2 separate regions of the Homo sapiens genome follow, and region 1 is linked to region 2. Evidence: fine-mapped expression QTL. A gene starts in region 2. The other region holds a variant in brackets. All regions are shown on one strand. Distances are between the middles of the regions.

Evidence for each region. PIP is the estimated chance that this variant, and not a neighbour inherited with it, causes the effect.
Region 1: its variant is fine-mapped to the expression of TP53INP1 in spleen (GTEx, PIP 0.92).

What each region holds. Positions count from the first base shown.
Region 1 is chr8:95,195,777-95,205,780 of GRCh38, reverse strand. No RefSeq gene overlaps it. Among named protein-coding and RNA genes, the nearest start is that of LINC01298, 16 kb to the left of the region's middle. The variant G/A (reference allele first, on the strand shown) is at 4,374.
Region 2 is chr8:94,943,582-94,953,585 of GRCh38, reverse strand. TP53INP1 (tumor protein p53 inducible nuclear protein 1) reads left to right here and starts at 4,208. Exons shown (of 4, transcript NM_033285.4): 1 at 4,208-4,432. It also overlaps a transcript of NDUFAF6 not described here. RefSeq lists enhancers at 3,353-3,402, 3,573-3,742, 3,609-4,238, 4,239-4,867 and silencers at 3,863-3,972, 4,053-4,432, 4,653-4,792.

The DNA of each region.
Region 1 (10,004 bases), 250 kb before region 2:
ATCCTCCCTATCCTTATACAGTGCATGGGTTGGAGCCTCATCATGTCTCTCCTGCTGCATCACAGCAGCCTCTCACCGGCCACTTTACACAGCCACCAGAACAATATTTCCAAACCACAGGTCACATTATGCCCCTCCTTACCCACATCCCCCAGCTTCTGAAGACATCCACTGGACCTTCCATGAGCAGGTCATGCCTTGGCCACACCTTCGCCTCACCCCTTGTCCCCTCACTCTGCATTCCAACAACAGTGAGCTTCCATAAGACGCCACCTCTCTGAGTCTTTGTGCATGCTGTTTCCACTGCCTGGTATGCCCTGCAAACTTCTATTCTTCCTTCAACACCTGGCTTAGTCATCACCTCCTCCAGAAAATCCTCCCAGATTCCCCCACTTCTAGAGTGAACCAGTGACTCCTCTGTGCAACAGCTTTCTTCATTCATTCAATAAACATTTCCCGAGTACTTACCATGTGCCCGGCACTGGGTTACAACAAGGAACAAGACTGACACGGTTCCTGCCCTGCAGGAGGGAGAGGAAAAGGAAACACAGGTTTCTAAGATTGTCGAACAACAGCAATTGGCATAATGAAGGGAAGGGCCTCGGGGAAGACTTTCAGGAGCACCTGAAGTATAACTAGGAGTTTATCAGAGGAAGGGGAGAAAGGGGTTCAGGCAGAGGGAACAGCATGTGGCAAGGCCTTGAAGTGGGAAGGAACGTGGTACATCTGGGAAATGTCAAGATGACAAGTCTGAACCTTGTACACACCTAACTTGTTGGGCTCCTCGTACCGGGTTCACCTGCCCATCTGCCCTACGAGGAGGAACCCCTAGAGAGTGGGCTTCACATCTGACTCACCTCTGCCTCTTACCAGCCACAGGACAGTGCCCAGGGAGAGCTCAGGACATTTCTGATGAAGTGAAAATGGACCTAACAAAAGTATCACTTGTTGTTATGCTCAGGGTTGGGGTCCAGTCCCAGCTGAGGTCCGAAAAGAGGGGATGGATGAGCAGATAGCTGAAAGAACACTCGGGGTGCTGTAGGCAGGTGAAATGTAATTTTATTCAGCAGCTCTCTCATCAGCAGCTTACACTAGCTCGTTTACACTGTTCACCTTTATTTTGGCTGCCTGCTCCAGCTCGGCGGCTCCTCTCAGCAGCCAGCTCCCACACACACCTGCGTGGCCAGCTCTCCCTTGCCTTCAGGGTCAGCAGCTGAACTCTTTCTCTCTCTGGGCATGAGTAGGCTGAGCTGTGTCCTGGCTCCCCCTGTCCATCTGCAAAGACCGACAGCTCTGGCTCTCTCTCTCTTTCTCTGGGTGCAAGTGCACCTGTACAGAGTCAGCAGGGCAATTATAGCTTTTACAGACAATAGTGGCATCGGGCCACATGGCTACATGGCTGTGATAACAAGTGGAGTTATATGCCTGCACTCTAAACTCACTGAGTCATGCAGGCCTGGATATCCACCTCGGCCTGTTCTTGACCAAAGCACATCCATATACCTTACACTTGTAAACTGGGAGGCTCTCTGTCCAGGCAAGCTTATCCTCAGGGAAGGGGTTGGGATGGAACTCCCTTTCCCCACCTCGTGTTCATGCCCAGACTCCCCAGCAGGCATCTGGCCTCATGGGCAGCAGGAGTGACACTGCCACCACTGACCCCTCAAGGACAGTGCTATGTTGGTGGCCCTCCCCACCGCCCCAAATTCATATGTTGAATCCCTAATCCCCACTGCAAAGGTATTAGGAGGTGTGGCCTTTGGGAGGTGATTAGGTCATGAGGGTGGAGACTTCACAAATGGGATTAGTGCCCTTATAAGAAAAGACATAAGAGAGGTGACCTCTCTGTCCCCATGTGAATAGACAGTGAGCAGTCGGCTGTCTGCAAGCTGAGAAGACAGCCTTCCCCAGAACTCAACCATGCTGGCACCCTGATCTTGGAATCCCATGCTCCAGAATTGTGAGAAGTGAACGTCTATTGTTTAAGCCACCCAGTCTATGGTATGGTGTTATAGCGTGAATTAGACAGACAGCCACCTGCTGATACATCCCTTCAGGCTCCTCTGCCCAGCAAAAGGACATGCAGATCCACCCCATGAGAGAGCTGCAGATGGGAGGATGCTGGATCTTTCTGGACCCCCCTACCCCACTCCACCCCTGCACCCCTTCCTCAGCCCCACCACCTGGCCCCTGCCCACTCGAGTGTGCCAAAGACGGCCTGTCCTCTCCTCTCTGAAAATGCGAGGTCCAGGCTGCTCTTTCACATATTTGACACAGAGCCATGTGCCACCAAACCAGCTCATCCCGGCACTTTAAAGGAGGGCCACAGATACAGGCAGAATAAAGCCTGGGCTTCAGGATCCAGGCTGGGTTTTTGGTTGAGCCAATCCCAGCACCACAGAGGCCCGGAGTGCCACCACTGGAAAGAGGCTTGTTGATCACCCCGTTTTCCCCCACTTCAGACCAGCAGATGGAGGAGGCCCAGAGATGCCTTCTGATCTGTGAAAACTCAGCGATCCAAAGCAGAAGTTCACCCAAGGCCACCTGAATCGTCACGCAGGACTCTGCCCAATATTCCACAATAGCTCTTGGTGCCCACAGGTGATGAATCAGATAAAAGGGAGGCAAAATAGACAAAGATTCTGCCCAGGGCCCCTAGGAGGCAGAGGTGAGACTACCAGGGAGGGCAGCCCATCCAGGCTGGAGACAGTTAAGCCCTGCAGGAAGGAAAATGCAGACTCTGTACCTACCCAACCCCCACACCAGCTGGGTATTAACAGGACTTGAGCCGAGAGGTCCTGGAATTATACTCTGCTGTACTCCCGCCTGTACCTGGGCACTCTTTACCTGGGTGGTCTAGGATACCCGATCAAAGCAATGATGACATCAGGGCAACTTACGAGAATATCTGAAGGATATCCCCTCTTATCCACTTTTTGAGGTTCCAGTTACCTGTGGTCAGCTGTAGTTTGAAAATATTAAATGGAACATTCCAGAAAGAAATAACTTATAAGTTTTAAATTTTGCACCATTCTGAGTACTGTGATGAAATCTCGTGCTGTCCCACTGCGTCTTGCCCAGGATGTGAATGGTCCCTTTGCCCAGCATCTCCACACCATAGATTCTACCTGCCTGTGAGGCACTTAGTAGCCAGCATCACTGTCAAATCAAAAAAACATAGTAGGCCGGGTGCAGTGGCTCACGCCCGTAATCCCAATACTTTGGAAGGCCAAGGTGGGAGGATCTCGAGACCAGCCTGGGCAACACAGTGAGGCCCTATCTCTATTAAAAAAAAGAAAAGAAAAGAAAAAACATGGTACAGTATATATAGGGTTCAGTACTCTTGGAAGTTTCAGGCATCTGCTAGGGGTCTTGGAACCTATCCTGCATGGATAAGAGGGGCCTACAGTATACAGGTCCCTAGAACAATAAGCCAAAAAGGTATTTGGAACCACTGCGGGCAGGGGAGTTCCATTAAGAGGGTGATGTGGAGTGGGCGTGTGTATAGACAAGCCTACTATATGCAGACACCCAGCCCCTTTCCATTTTCTTTGATCTTTCTTTTTCACGATCTGCTTGGAGACAGAAGACAGGTGCAGCAGCTTCAGGTCCCGGGGAATTTAAAAAGCAAAATTTACCACGTTTTGTAGGCTGCCAGCCTGAGGCTCCTTCTTACCTGACCTTTCCTTATGTGGCATCTGACCTTTTAAAATGATCTTCCCTTATCTCCCAGCAAGTTGTTCTGCTTCTTCCACTAACCCCTGCCCTCCCCATGGGAGAGTGACTAATCAGCACTGTTCAGGAGGAGATGGGGTGCCCATCAGAATGCCCAGGGGGCCCTCGAACCCGGGCCCTAGTGAGGATGGGCTCCCTGCTCCTCCATGTGCCACTACAACATGAGAGTCAAGTCTGGGATCTGCTTTGGCGACGCGAGTGGAGGTCTGCTGAGGAATGGGCTCTAAGGGCAAAAGGAAGTGGTTCTTAGACTTTCCATAGTAATGGAGGCTCCCACCCATGGGCATGACAGCTTTCCCTATGAACTGGAGTCCTCGTCGACACCTCTCCCTGAATTAGAAGTGTTTAGGACCACGTGTCTTCTCCCCAACCAGGCTCCTCAGTGAGGGAGTGACCAGCTCCCTTCAGGTTTCCATCCCCTTCGTGAGTGTGGCAGATAGCCACCTCCTGATCCCCACTCCCTGTGGCTGCCACCGATACAGAAAAGAGGGAGGGGCACTTTGCTACCGGATCCAGGATTCTGAAATGAGGAGATGATCCTGGATTATCCAGGTGGCCCTAATAAGGCGGAGGCACACACAGGAGAGGAGAAGGTGATGTGACCACGGGGGCAGAGACTGCGACCACAGCCAAGAAAC[G/A]CTGCAGCCGTCAGAGGCTGGAAGACATGGATTCTCCCCTAGAGCCTCCAGAGGGAGCGCAGCCTGCCAGCACCTTGATTTCAGCCAGTGACACTGATTGTGGACTTCCAGCCTTCGGAACTGTAAGAGAAGAAATGCCTGCTGTTATAAGCCACCAGGTTTACAGTAATATGTTACAGGAGCCACAGGAAACTAAGTCAGTGAGTAGCCTCATAAGATTCTTTTCTATTTATTCATTCAACAAACATTTAGCAAGTGCTGTACATGCCAGGCACTGTCATAGGCGGCAAGATGCAGCTGTGAACAGGACAGGGCAGGCCCTGCTCCATGGAGCTGCAGCCCAGTCAGATAACTGCCTGAAAGAGTGGTGCTTCCAATAATTATGGACGAGCATCACAGGTAAGCAGGAAGCAAAAATGGCAGCTAAAAAAACCACACAGACCTCCATAAAATAGTGCCAATTCCTGTACAAATTATATACAAATGCACTTGTGAAGACAGATGTCACCTTCAGAGAAAACACAAGGCTATCTAGATCCCAGCTGCACCCCAGAAAGCCTGAGGGAACAGTACAGGTCAGAGGGAGTGGGCAGAGTCCCAGACACACTGCCTTTCTTCCCCTTCAGGGGGTTCAGCCTCCTGCAGAGGAACCAGGTACAGCCATTGCCATTGCAGCTGCAGCCCCACAGAAATGGCCTAACCCCCCAGGGAAGGCCCCTAAAGGAAAGCGCCCTGAAAGAGTGGCTTTCCAATGTTTACACAGAGATTGCATGGAATTTACACCAAACTTCAGGGTGAGGTCATGACCCTGGGTGAAGGCTTGCTTCAGATGAATCAAAACATGTTGGACCTCAGAGACTCCAGCAAACAGCCTGCTTTCCCACAAGTAAGTTGGTCACATCAGGTGGGCAGTGACCTCATGTAATCGCCCAGTGTGGTGTACTCCACAACAGGTCATCTCCAAAGCTGCTTAAGCTCCCTGCACAACCCTGGCATTACCAGATACCTGATTCTGCAAAATATCTGCTGATCTTCTTGACCACAGGACTCGCTCTGTCTGAACAACCTGGGAGGAGGAGTCAGGGTGTGGCAGGGTGAGGGAAGTAGCCAGGACCCTCCACATGCTGCCCCTGCTCCCTCATCCCATGACCCTGGTGAGCCCCAACCTCCAGGCCAGGCTTAACAACACCCCTTCTTTCCACCTCTTTTGAGGATTAAATGAGACAACAGATGGAAATACACTGAAAAGTGTTAGGTGCTAAACCCAGGCCAAGTGATATTTTTAACCTGGAACTACTCAGTTGCCTCTGAAAGCAATGAACTCTATGCTGTCTTTGCAGGTACAAAAAGAAATCTTCCACTAAATTGTGTTTCAGTGGCTACAACTATGTGTTAGCTAATTCTTCCACCCTCTCACCTACCTCCAGCTGCTCCAAGTGTGCAGCTCTGTGGCAGTTTCAAGAGTAGGGTACTGTGTAGTAAAGAATTGGCCTTATCCAGAGATGTCCAGAGGTTCCTGGGAGGTACCTCTAAGCCCTGGGGATGTCCTGCCTGATAAGAGTGTCTTTGTTTGCCTGGGCAGTCTTGAACCACATTGAATAGCCTAACAGCGTGATTTATGTTGGGGGCTTTGAGCCACATAGTATCAGCTCGACCTCCAGAAGGGCTGGAGATTAAAGGTCAGTCACACAAGTAGTCCACCATGTCTACCTGTCTGAGACCCAGTAAAAACTCTGTACACAAAGGCTCGGGTGAGGCTCCTTGGGTGGCAGTACTCCACATGTACTGTCACATATCCTGGCCAGGAAAAGTTGGTGCTGCCCATGAGTCTACTGGGAGAGGACAACTAGAAGCTTCCCTTTCGGGACTTTCTGCTCCATGCATTTCTTCCTTTGGCCCATTCCTTCCACTGAAACTATAAGTGTAACAGCTTTCAGTTGGTAAGTCCTCCTGCTGATTTATCAGATCTGAGGGTGGCCAGACCTGATCCCCTCCCACTCCCACCACCCCTCAACAGATAATTGGCATCAGAAGTGAGGTGATCCTGGGGACAGCCTTGCACTCTGTAACTTCTTAACTCTTTTTGTGCCGCGGATGCCTTTGGCAGTCTGGTGAAGCTGTGGACTTTTCTGAAGATGATTATTAAATGCACAAAATAAAATATATAGTATTCAAAAAAACCAGTTATATTGAAATGTAAGTATCAAAATATGTGCTTCTTTATTAAGATATTAAATAATGAGTTATAGTAGAGATTTACTATCTACCATAATTTTGAAGTAGCAACAAACACCCAATATTTCAAGATATCTGCAACAACTATAAAGAGATGCAGATTTAAACCAGGCATGGTGGCTCACACCTGTAATACCGGCACTTTGGGAGGCCAAGGCAGGGAAATCACTTGAGGTCAGGAGTTCGAGACCAGCCTGGCCAACATGGTAGAACCCAGTCTCTACTAAAAACACAAAAATTAGTAGGGCATGGTCATGGGCACCTGTAAATCCAAATACTCAGGAGGCTGAGGCAGGAGAATCGCTTGAACCCAGGAGGCAGAAGTTACAGTAAGCCAAGATGGTGCCACTGCACCACTCCAGCCTGGGTGACAGAGTGAAACTCTGTCTCAAAAAAAAAAAAAGAAAAAAAGATGTAGATGTATATTAGTGTCAACATCACAGGTGATGTATTTTGTTTCCTACATTCACAATTGAAATTAATTCTAAATTTCAGTTAGAGGTTATTGGAAATAAAGGTCTAATTTTTTTTCTCATCCAAGGTCACAAACCCCATAAATTCTATCCCCAGATCACCAACAGGTCCATGGGCACCAGATTAAGAAGCCTAGTCTAGGACTTGGGTGATTATCTCACCCTTCCTAGCAGCTTAAGTAGAGCTGTCACTGTCAATGTTGTTTTTAATGATAATAATCGTAGCTAATCCTCATTGAGCATTTGCTCTATGCCCAGCACAATGAATGTGAAAGTGCCATACACATATGAACCATTATTTTTATGTCATATCACTTAACGAGCTTTCTGATTGAGTTAGGAAAACAAGAGCTGTCGCTTTTGGCATGCTTAATATGGGCGAGGCACATACCAAGCACTTACAATGCATTCTTTCATTAGGCCTCACGGCAACCTGATGAGGTGGAACTGTTATTCCTCCCATTTTATAGACAAGGAAAGTGAGGCTTTGAGAGTTTAAACAACTTACCCAAATGATAAGGATAGTAATTGGTAAAGCCAGATATTCAAATCAGGTGTCAGACTCAAGACAGAGCACAGCTCACAAAAGTTAGCAGAATGGCACTCAGCAAACCCGGATGGCCATGGCGGTGCCACTGGATGACCTGACCACAGTGGTCCTGTGTCCAGACAGAAAAGACTGACCAATGAATGGAAATAGAGATAACTCAGCACAAGGTCCTGAACTGCATGGATTAATAAGTCAATGATTACTGAGGCTGTGGGGAAGTTTCTGTGCTAATCATTAGTGTTCCGATTCCAGAACCATGGGCGTCATGAAGATTAACCTGCTCAGCGAAGAGTTTCCTGATTTCTCTAAGGGTGCCCTTGATTGGCACACAAAGGATCCTGTGGGTGCTTCACGGCCTAGCAGCATCCTCAGTATCAGGCCATGTGGTCTTTGCTTTCTCCAGAATCATCATCATCATCATCATCATCATCATCATCATCTGAGAAGGTTCTTACAGAGCAGCTCTTGGCATCCAAGCCCATCCACGGACCAGGATGCCCTACAGAGGCAAAGGCAGATGGGGAGGGGAGGGCTGAGACAGACACAGGGAAAAACAAACCTTACAACAAGACAAGTTATAATACAGGAATGGAAATGATGTGGCACCAATGCCACCACTCCCCACTACCATATCCAGTAGCAGAGATGCTACTCATAGTACTACTCATAGGACACTATATAATTTCCCCTTAAATGAGGTTGATGCAGCCTCAGAATCCTTCTCAACACAGCTCTCCAGGTAGCTACAACCAATTGGTTGAACTTGACATACAGGTTGCAACCTATTTTTCATCAGATCCATGATACCAGAAGGAAAGGAGAAAAGTTATACTCTTGAAACAATGACATAAAACAAGAGTAGCTAAAACTTATTGAGCATTTATTCATGCCAATTCCTGTTCTAAGCACTTTACATGTATTACTCACATTTTCTTCTCACTACAACAATCTTACGATGTGAATACTATTATTAGCCCCATTTTCCATAAGAGAAACCTGAGGCACGAATCGGTTGTTCCATATGACTTGTTCCATGTCACCCAGTGAGAAGGGAGTAAAGTTAGGTTTCGAATCCAGGTGGTCTGGCTCTAAAACTTGCATATTTAATTAGCCACTATGCTGTACTCATCCTGTCCAGTGCTGGGGGTATTTTTAGCTATTGACCATAGCAAAAGACAAAGATGAAATGGCTTTATAGTTTTGCATGTTGATATAAGCAAAAGTGACATAACATTCTCAAAGACTGTTCTCTAAAGTTTTCAGAGAGATGCCTTTGTCAATCAATGCACTTTGCTCTGGTCCTGCTTCTCAATGCGGCCGGTCTCTTCACTTTTTACTTCCCCAATGCAGCTCATCTGTAGGCCCAGTGCTGGCCATACCAGAGCCCAGCACGCAGCATCTACATTGAAGACTCCTGGCTGAGGCAGGGCCTCCCCGCTCTCCCTCCTCACCTTGTCAGGTCCTCCAGTGCCTGTGTATTTTTCTGACCCAACTGCTTGCCTAATTACAGATCCCTGGCACAGTCTAAACTGGCCCGGCTAGACCTGGAAGTCCCCGGAATCCAGGCATTCTGTTAACATCAGGTGTAGAGGAGAACAGATGCAGAGAAAGCCAGCTCCACCCCGCCCATGTTGCTGATGGCAACGAGTCAGATCTCCAAGAAAACAAGTTCAGTGGCAGAATCCAAGCGCTTAACTCGGCCACCATATTACATCTTTTATAGACGGAACCGAGGGGAGCTTTAGGAGAGGGATACAACCCGTCTCAGCAACAGAAAAAACCCATACCTGCCCTTGTAGGTAGCTGCTCTTGGCAGCAGAAACAGGTGTATCCTTTGAGATGGCCCCAAGGTCACCTCCAATCCCCCCTCAAGGTTCCAAGCTCAGTGACTGCTGGCCAAGGCAGCCAGCAGGTGGCCGTGGCAGAGCGGGTAAGGTGCTGTCCACTTTGCCTCCGTTTCCACCCAGACCAAGAGCACTGCCTCTTCTATGGGTGCAGGGGCAGAAATAAGAACTAGACCAGCAGCTCTGCATGATTAGTACTGGCAGTTCTAGTTATGACCCAGATTGGCATGGGGCCCACTGGGCTCCCACACCCAAATCCTGACAGGGAGCGAAGTAGAAGCAGAGTCCGGGCGGGTTGGAGGATCTGGCTGGTTCAGTCCATCAAAACCAAGTCAGCATCAGCCACCATTTGGAATTAACTCGACTTCCTCTCTTCCTACCACCCATGCAAAAGGCAAATTTTCAGAAACCCTATTTAAAGCTCTCCAAGCACTTTCAGTATATTTTGTAGAGTGTTTGGCAGTATATAATATTATTCCTTTTGCATGTAGTATTTTATTTATTCTTATATGAAGTCTGAGAGCATGAG
Region 2 (10,004 bases):
AGTCGCTTTGGCAGCGGGAGTTACAAAAGCCCTTTGCTCACACACTTCAACTAATCTCTGACAACCGCCCCAAGAACGAGTCACATCTGCCCCACACAGTGCGCCTCTTCAAGCTTCATGGCTCCTTGGAGCTAGGGTGGTGTATGAAGGGCCATTCTGTATCATGTCTCTAGACCATATCCAGTAAGGGATGACCTTGCTTTCTGCTCAAAGGTTTTTTTTTTGTTTTTTTTTTTCTTGAGATGGAGTTTCCGTCTTGTTGCCCAGGCTGGAGTGCAATGGTGCGATCTCGGCTCATGCAACCTCCGCCTCCCCGGTTCAAGCGATTCTCCTGCCTCAGCTTCCCGAGTAGCTGGGATTACAGGAATGCACCACCATGACCAGCTAATTTTGTATTTTTAGTAGAGACGGGGTTTCTCCATGTTGGTCAGGCTGGTCTTGAACTCCCGACCTCAGGTGATCCACCTGCCTCGGCCTCCCAAAGTGCTGGGATTACAGGCGTAAGCCACCGTGCCCAGCCTCTGCTCTAAGTTTTAACATAAATAATTGGGTTACCTGTACATTCAGCCAGAAACTAAGAAGCCTTGAAAGTACTTTCCAGAAACTAGAGAAAATACTCTAGGCCTGAAGCGATCATTAGTTACAATCCAGCGCAGGCTATCCCACCTCTTGGGGACTCCCCCCTAGCACTGGTTACTGAATGAAGGGGGCCCGCCTCCTTTTTCCTTTCTGCTGCCTCAGCCAGCACACAGACCCTTTTTATTTTAAGGATTTTATTTCTAATCACCACGTGGAAATAGGGTTAAACAAAAAGACAAACATACAAAAGTCACAAAGGTTGCAGGGTCTTGAAAAGCTATTACACTTATGGCCCTGGAATAATTCTTGACTCCTTTCTGAGATGGTAACTGGCAGCCCAGTTAAACGCCTGTTTTCTGTTTTTATTTCAGAAAGCAGAAATCACAGAATCTCTTGCTTCTTTGTTCCAGGCTTTCTGGAGACCCAGTCAGATCCTTTCTTCCCTTAAGACAATAGATGTCACTGGAATGCTAAGTGATTGTTTATCTAAAATGCAATTTAAAAAAATTCTTGTCTTTCCCAGACACTTGGCAACATGCTGTGTCCATGGTAGAAGCCCAGCAGATCCTAACTGTTGATGGGTAGATAGAAAACGACCTAAGTGGACTTCACTTTGCCATTCTCCTCAGTACAGACAGAACAACTTGTTGCTTTGTGTTCTGAGGCTGCCCCAAGTAGCCATCCTATGGGTTGGTAGGAAACAACATTCTTTAGCAGCCTCGATGCAACTGGCAGGGTTATGGCCACAGCCTGCTTTCATAAGCAGGAGGCAGAGGCATTAGTTGCATTGTATCTGTTTGTTGGTGTGAATGTGGTCCTGCACTGTGAGTCTTCCAAACAAAACTTGAGGTTGAATCCCTTTTGTTAGGGTAGATAAGGGAGCGTATTGAGCTCCATGGAAAACAGACAGGAGAACTCTGACAGATGGGGAAAGGGTCACCCCCACAGCAGGGGGTCAGCCTGGAAGTGGGTACTATAGCAACACGCTAAGAATTATTCTGTGAATTAAAGGATGGTTGGATTCACTGGATCTGCCCAGGCAGGGAACCTGGCTGGGTCTTTGTCAGTGAACAGATGAAAAGCTTGCTTGCATTTGTGTAATTTGACAGTTTGGTTGTGTTCAGACAGCTCTACGCTATGGAGATGACATTACTCCTGAGTTTCACTGCATGCATTTATGTAAACCAGTGGCATACCAGGAAGGGAGGCAGTGGGAGTGATCCACCCCAGATACAGGCAGTACACAGTAAATTTGTGTGTCTGCAAAGAATTTTAAAATAAAATTGACTAAAAGTCAGTTTGCTTTTTATTATTATGCTCCAACAGTTCCAAACAATGTCGTGGTAAAGTACTCCTCCCTCCTAGGGACAGACTTCACCTATGCTGCCCTGAGGCACGCCCTCCTTGGTGCACCACTGGGAATAAACAAGCACCAGGTGGGAAGATTATAAATCAGCAAGAGAGTAAACAGAAAGCAAGTGACTCCTGAGACAAGATGTTTTCATCACAAACACTATTTGGTAGAGTTTAGAGTCACTGATCTGTGATGGGCATTTCTGTTAGCTTTGTGTTTTGGTTATCGCTGCTTTAAAAACTACCCCAACATTTAGTGCCTTAAAACAATGATCATTTATTTGTTCACAATGCCGTCATTTTGGCAGTGCTCCGTGGGGATGGCTTATCTCTCCTCTGTTCAGTATGGTGTCTGCTGGAGCTGGAACTTCCTAAGGGCTTTTCCACTCATGTGTCTGGTAGCTCAGCTGGGATGAGCTGAAGAGCTAGAGCTGGCCAGGCATCTCTTTCTTTTCACATAGCCTCTCCCTGTGGCTAGCAGGGTGGTCTCTCCTCATGGGTGGCTGGCATTTTCCAGAGTACAAAGCAGAAGCTGTGGGGTTTGCTTAATGCTTTTGCTTAATGACGAGGCTTGGAAGTCCTAGAACATTCTTTCTGCCACATTCTATTGGTCAGAGCAATCACAGGGTCAGCCCAGATTCAAAGGGAAGAAAAATACACCCACTTCATGATGGAGATACTGTTGTGGTCATCTTTGGAAAAATGATCTACTTCATATTGAATTTTTCTATCATAACAAGATGATGATTTCACATGTTGCTTTAACCATGATAAACCTTATCAAACTGGAAAAAGGTAGGCCTTTTTCTTTTTAAAAATTAGCCCCTTGTAATTGTCATCATACCTTGGTTCTGAATGTGGAGATGGCCTCTTCAATGGATTCCTAGGGAGAAACAAGAGATCATGGGGCTCCTACCATAGCATGTGGGAGAAAATATTAGAACAAGCCTGATTTGCAAAAACCTAAAATCCAAAGCATGTTCAAGTCTGTGAGACTATCTAGAACACAGTTTTAGCTCTTTCTCCCAAGATAAGGTCCAATGACCATCATATTTTGATCATTACTCCTTGGTGTCTGACAACTCCCTGCACTGCAATTTACATCCTTTAAAACCAGCATTGTTGGAAATGGACTGACTACATTGTGAGGGTCAGAATGTGAGTGTCTTTCAGATACTGTAATGTGTGATAGGCATCCCTCCAGGGTTGCTATACAGCTCACCCCAGGTCAAAGAACTACATCCCAGTCCAAACAGTATCCACATGAGAGCTGATAGGCATCAACGTTACTCACCTGCCTTTGCCAGACAGTTAATCCACCTATATGTGGGACAGAGCCTTGGTCTGGAAAACACTTTCAAGCCCACTGTCTCACTCTCTTGTCACTATAAATAACCTGGTGAGTTGGCAGTCCCGGCGTGAATGCCCACAATTTGCAGGTATGCAAACAGAACAGAGGGGCTAAGTTCCGTGGGTCACATGAGAGCTAGGCTGCAGCGCCTGGGGAGGCGGCCGTTCCCGCCCGGTGCGCTTGTTGTCCGCTGGAGCAGAGGCCCCCGAGCCTGCTGACCTCTCTGCCTTCAGGCCTGGTCTCGCAGTCCCTTGTGCCTCGCCTATAGGCAGGCGGAATCCAGAGCGTGCAGCAAGCCCGGCCGGCTCTCGGTGGCGGTTTCTACAGCAGGTGGGGCCTGGCTCCGTGATTGAGCGGCCTCTACCCCTCTATCTGGGGCCCAGCAGCGGCCCCCTCCCAGCACCCTGGCTACACGTCTAACCCTAGGCTGACCAGGTGGGGCTCTCGGAGGCGTTAGCCCCAGCCCTCCCAGGAGTCTTAATGTTCCTCTCACAGGAAAAAACGTTCTGCGCCCTTTGTGCCCCAAACCCTCGACCCTTCACTCGGCGAGAGGGGTCGCTGAGGGAGAGATCCACCTCTGCCCTTCCCGTTGCCCGCCGGTTCTTCCTCGCCCGCCTCTTACGCACCCCGCTCCCGCCGGCTCCTGGAAAGCCGGCCCCGGCCCCAGCGCTTCCCTCCCCGGCCTAGCCCCTCTCTCCCACCCTTCCGCTCGCCCAGGCCTTCACGCTCAGCTCCCGGTTTTTGTTGCCCGGGCTTGTTTCGGAGCTGAGCGCGCCGCCGGCCGGGCGCCAGGTCACGTGCGTTGGTGACAACCTCTCGCAGGGCGGCCCCGGGGCCCCCGCACCGCCGATTGGTGGGGCCCGGCCTGGCGCGGCCCGGGGCGGGGCAGCGGGGCCCGACGGCGAGCGGAGCGGCCGATCAGCTGTTGCGAGCGCTGCACAACAACAAAAGGACTTGGACTGGCCGGCCTGGGCGCAGCGACCCGAGGGCTGGAGCCGGCCCCGCGCCTGCCGTCTGGGTACCTGAACGAGGTGCAGCGCAGCCCGGCCCCACCGCAGCTACCTCAGCAGTCCCGCCCCGCCCGCGTCCTTCCCCGCCGAGCCGGCGGCCGCTCCCTTCCCCGCGCAGCCCCGCACGGCCCGGGCCCACGTAAGTGCCGGGGGGGGGCGGGCGGGCGTCCGTCCAGGGCCGCCTCGCTGCCGGTTGGGGCCGCAGCGCTGCCCGCTCCTGAGCCCGGCGGGGCCGGCCGCGCGCCCTGCCTTCGGGGCGCCGGTTGCGCGTTCACCGAGCCCCCTCGCTGCCTCCCCTCGCCGCCGCCGGGCCCGGCCGCCCACCCAGTGGGTCGGTCCTCGGCGGCCCCCGGGGCCCAGGGCGCGGACAGAGGCTGACAGAGGCGGCGGCGGCGCGGACAAGGGCCCGGCCTGGCCCCGGCGCTGGGCGGCGGTTGGGAGTTTGGTCTCTGCCTCCTCCCCCGAGCGTGGCTTGTTTTCTTGGCCGCGGCGGGACCTCCTCCTCTCACCCCTCCTCACTCCCCTCCACTCCTCCTCCTCCGCCTGCTCTCGGCCGTTGGATGGGGCCGCCCCTTCGGGACTCGGCGTCGGGGCTCCCGCGGCCACCCCCGGGACGCATCTCCGAAGACAGCGGCGCTTGGGCTTGTGGCCCGGCGCTCTGTCCCCGCCCTGCGATCCCGTCCCCTGCGCCTGCCCTCCGAGTTCCGGAGGCCCTGCGGCTATGGGGAACCTGCTCCGTGACCCGGCCACCGGCCCCCGCCTGTCCGCGGCCTGTCCCTTGCTTGACCTGGCTTGAACTCAGTCTTCGCTACCTGACTTTGCACCTGTGGAAAGAGCGCTCTCCTTGGCCCTTAACATTTAGATCCTTTGGATCGCTCACGCTTACTGAGCGCTGAGTATGTGCCATATACTATGCTGGGGGCTTTGCTTTATCGCCCCAGTTGATTCTCATAATAACCTTATATGAAATAGGCCCGGCTATCTTACACATAGGAAACCCGAGGCACAGAGAGATTAAGTTGCTCAAGGCCACACAGCCAATTAATAAAAGGAAATGGTGTTTGTATTTCAAAGTGGCAGCTGAATTTTACCTGGAGAGTCTGTTTTGCTTGTATTTTCTGATTATATCTGCTCAGTAGGTTAATTCCAATACAGAGTGGATTAAGGAAGAGCCTCTTTACAACTGTGACTCCCAAGGACTTGGGCATCTATTGCTAAAAAAGCCTTTTCTCAATGCACAATAGTTTTGGGAAAAGGGGGAACAATGTGACCCTTGGGGTCACTGAACAGAAGTCATAATGAGTTCCCCCACGATACTGAAATCACCAGCCTGGTAATTGAAATACATTTTCATTTGCAGATGTGAAAAGCACTGGGAAGCTTTTAAGTCGCAATCAGTGTAATTCTGAACTGGCAGCATAATTTTAAAAGGCCCCTGCCTGGAACCAGGACCTTACTAATTTCTGTGACCAAGGTCTTGTTTTCTCATCCTATCTTTTGTTCTTTCCTGCCATTGCTTCCTCTGATGTCTGCTTTCAAAATTCAAGATTATCAGGCTATGAATTACCACTTACTCTTGTCTTTGTCCACTGTCTTTCAGCCTTAGGGGCAGACAGGGGTGGATCCCTGGGGGAATAACCTCCCTTGCACACTAGTTGAACAGTCTTCACATAAGTGGAACAAGCAAAGACAACTTTTTTGGCTTGGTTTTTTCTGCAGTTCAAAATCCATTTTAAATTACTTGAATCTAGTCTTCATATAAGTGGAACAAGCAGAGATAACTTTCTTGGCTTGGTTTTTCTCCAGTTCAAAACCCATTTTAAATTACTAGAATCTGCACGTTTTTAAAGTAGTGGAAGAGGGTGGGATAAAAAGAAGGATAATTCTGAAGCTGCTTTTCAATGACGGTACGTTTAGCCACCTGATTTCCTGAAACTGTGAAGGAGCCACAACTGTACACAGATTTAGAAGTTAGATCATCAAACTTGCGGGTTTTTTTTTTTTTTTTAATATTTTTTGGAGCCGCCTACTGGCAGCTGAAACTAACTGAAAAGGGCTGTTTTCTGAAGTTCGTAGACCCATAGTTGAGACTGGGAGCCTAAAAGAGCATGTATAGGGAAAACAAGGAATTGGAATCAGATGGATTTTTGCCCTAATGCTGACTCCACCCCAACCAACTCTGTCACTTTTGAACAAGTTAGTTAATTCCTCAGCCTCGGTTTCCTCATCAGTAAAATGGGACAAATAAGTACTTCAAGGCCCCGTTACATACAATAAGCATTCTGTAAATTGTAGCTCTAATTATTAAGTAGACATTTTATGGATAAAGAAACTCAAATGCAGCGATGCTAAATGACTTGTTGACAGTCTCACAACTGGCTTTGAATGAACCGAGGTCTGCTATTCTAAGTAGTATACACTTAATCCTTACACTGGCACTGTGAAGTAGGTATTATAACTATCATTCCCATGTTAAGGATGAGAAAACAGAGACACCAAGATGTTAGTAAATATCCTGAATTCACATAGGTTGCAAGTAGCAGAGCCAAGATTTCAAACTCCAGGGCCTGTCTTTTTTTTTTTTTTTTTTTTTTTTGAGACAGGGTCTTACTCTGTTGACCAGGCTGGAGTGTAGTGGTGGGATCACAACTCACTGCAGCTTCAAACTCATGGGCTCAAGCGATCCTCCTACCTCAGCCTCCCTGGTAGCTGGGACTACATGCACATACCACCACACCCAGCTAATTTATTTTTTGTAGAGATGGGGTCTTGCTTTGTTGCCCAGGCTGGTCTTGAACTCCTGGCTTAAAGTGATCCTCCTGCCTTGGCATCCCAAAGCACTGGGATTATAGACATGAGCCACTGCGCCCAGCCTCAGAGCCAGTCTTTAAGTACCACAATATACTGCCTCTTGGTGGGCTGTCTTAAAAGTGACAAAATAAATTATGCTAACAAGATCTTCCAAATTAGCAGTTCCTTTTCTAAGTGGTCAAACTAGAATGCTCTTCCCCGTGAGTATTAGACTCAGTCAGCCACCTTTCTCTGCCTACAAAGCATCTCTACTCATGTAATAATATGAAAACCATTGATGATAAAATGTTAAGTAACAGTGAGATACAAAACAGTGCATTCACAAGACTATAACTATGATAAAAAGAAGCCTTATGTGTAGAAGAAAAAAAAAAACAGAAGAAAAGGCACCAATGTGTTAAGTGGTGGGAACAAGGCAATGGAATAATACTTATTTTTCTTATTTTCTAGACTTTTTATAATGTGGTTTTGTTCAGTTTATAATTGAAAAGACATAATTTATTTTTTAAAGGGAGGGATGGAGGTCTTTTGAGCCAAGCAGAACAAGGACAAAGCTGCCTTCTTGAAATGCTAGGGCCCAGACACTTTGTTTCTTTTCTGTATTGAGGGGTTCTTTTCTCTTGTCGGGGAAACTGCTGGACTGACGCTGGTTAAAGCTGTTCAAAGAACAACAGCGCTACTTCACCTAACCTTCTTTGCTTCACCTCTTTGCTGAATTCCAGAACTGTATTTGTAAGTTTGTCCTCTTAGGACACATGCTTTCTCTGGAATTTTTATTTTCGTTCTATGATTGCCCTAGCATTGTGAATATTAGTGGTGATCTGGGGAGGAGAGGAGTCTAAAGCTCTACTTTTCCATTTACCTCCATGTAGAACCAGCCCAGTTGAGAGCCTCCATCCCTGGGCAGGAGCCAAGGTCAACAGTAGCAGTGACTGGGCAGGGACAGTCTCTGGGTCATCAGTAGGAGGGTAGGCCTTTAAGACTTTTTCTAGAACAGTCCTGTTCAACAGAAATAGATAATGTGAGCCACATGTATGTTTGAATTTTCTAGTAGCCATATTTAAAAAGGAAAAAGAAACTGGTGAAGTTAATTTTATTAATGTATTTAATATACTAAAATTATTTTTTCAACATGTAATCAATATAAAAACTGTTTTGCATTTTGGGGGGTACTAAGTCTTTGAAATACACTCTAGTGTGTACTTTACATATACAGCACATCTCAATTCAGATACAAAGTTTTCATTTGAAGTACTTGATCTATATTTAGACTTCGTAAAATTTATAGGTGAAAAAGTAGATTCATACCCTAACTGTTCCAAACATACTTGAAAGTTTTCAAAAAACTAAATTATCAGCTTTTAAGTTTAACTGGATTAAACTTAGTAAATGGATTAAATAGTAAAATGAAAAATGCAGTTTCTCGATGATACTAGTCACATTTCAAGTGTTCATGTGCACAGTGTGCCTGGTGGCTACCTCAGTGGACAGTTTTAGCAATGGGGGGAGGGTCTCTCCAATAGCTCCTTGCCTTTTGTGACACCTGCAGAAAGCAGGGCCAAAGGAATTTGGCTTTGCTAGTTAAACCAGCCTCACTTTTTTGTGCTAGAAGTTTGTGGGGAAAGAGAGTGACGAGGTGATTCAGCGCAGTCTCCCCATTTTCCCAACAGTGAGACTGAAGCTCAGAAGGGCCAATTTAGCTCCAGCCACCTGTAGTAGAGCCACAGCCAGAACTGCTGCTGTGGATGGCCAGGCCCCTTTAACCCTCCCCAGGAACTCCATTCTGTGTTCTTCCCACGGGTGTCAGCAGATGTGCCATGTAAACACCAGCAGTGGCTTGAGTGAGATGAAGGATGAGCTCCTCCCTCACTTGGCTGGGCTTCTGAGCACTCTGTCGCCCAAGGTTGGTTGTCCTTGCAGAGATATGGGACATCTGGAGGCAGCCTCTGACTTTGGGAAACCAAAAGAGCACTGACTTGTACTGCTCCCTAGAAAGCTCCTCCAGAGAAGCCTTTCCTGTATCTTACTTGCTACTTGCATATATTCCAGGCAGAAGCTGCCTTCCTGGGTTTGGACCTGTGGCCAGAGGGGGCAATTTGCATGTGGGAACCCAGCAGCTGTCACAACTGCAGTGGCCCCAGCAATGTTTTTTGGCCTTACAGCTGCCAGTTATCTGACCTGGGCCCCAGTGCCTTACTCTCATGCAGCATCACAGGTTGGGGACAAGGCATTCGTTCAGGACAAGCAAAGGTTCCCCTGTGTGGTTCTCCCCTCCCAGTGGCTTTAGCTGATTCAGGGCTAGAGTCCAGCACCATGCTCTGCAGAATTGGGCTTATTCTCTCAACTGGTTCAGCAGACACAGAATTGTACGTGGGGCCAATATCTGCCTCCACAATTTAAAATAAATGGAGGAAGGATTTTGAAAATATGTTTTTCCCTCTAAGCATGTATCCTCAAAAATCTTTATTTACATCAGACCTTATGATAACTTATTTTGGAATATAACTATCACACCACAGCAGGTCAAACAAACTACACTTTTCTTCTGATTGTTCTTACATAGAGCATAAAGCTGACTTTGAATTCTGCTACAGCTCCAGCCTTCATGATTTGGCCGTGCTGCTTTCCAGAAGGTTTCAGGAAGACTGGTTATGCAAGTGACACTTCCTGTTTACCTATTTTTAATAATTAGTGGCTGAAGAAGATGAATTGTGACCACAAAGTGTTCTAATGTTATTTATTTGAAATGTTTAACTTGTGTAGTAGTGTGCCAAACAACTGTAGCAGTTCAGTTTACACACAAGGAACTGAACCAGGAATCTCATTAGCTACAGATCCCAACTACTTTTACAGCTAAAGATTATTTTGAAAGTGAACTGTCAGGAGCCTGAAGTTGTAGA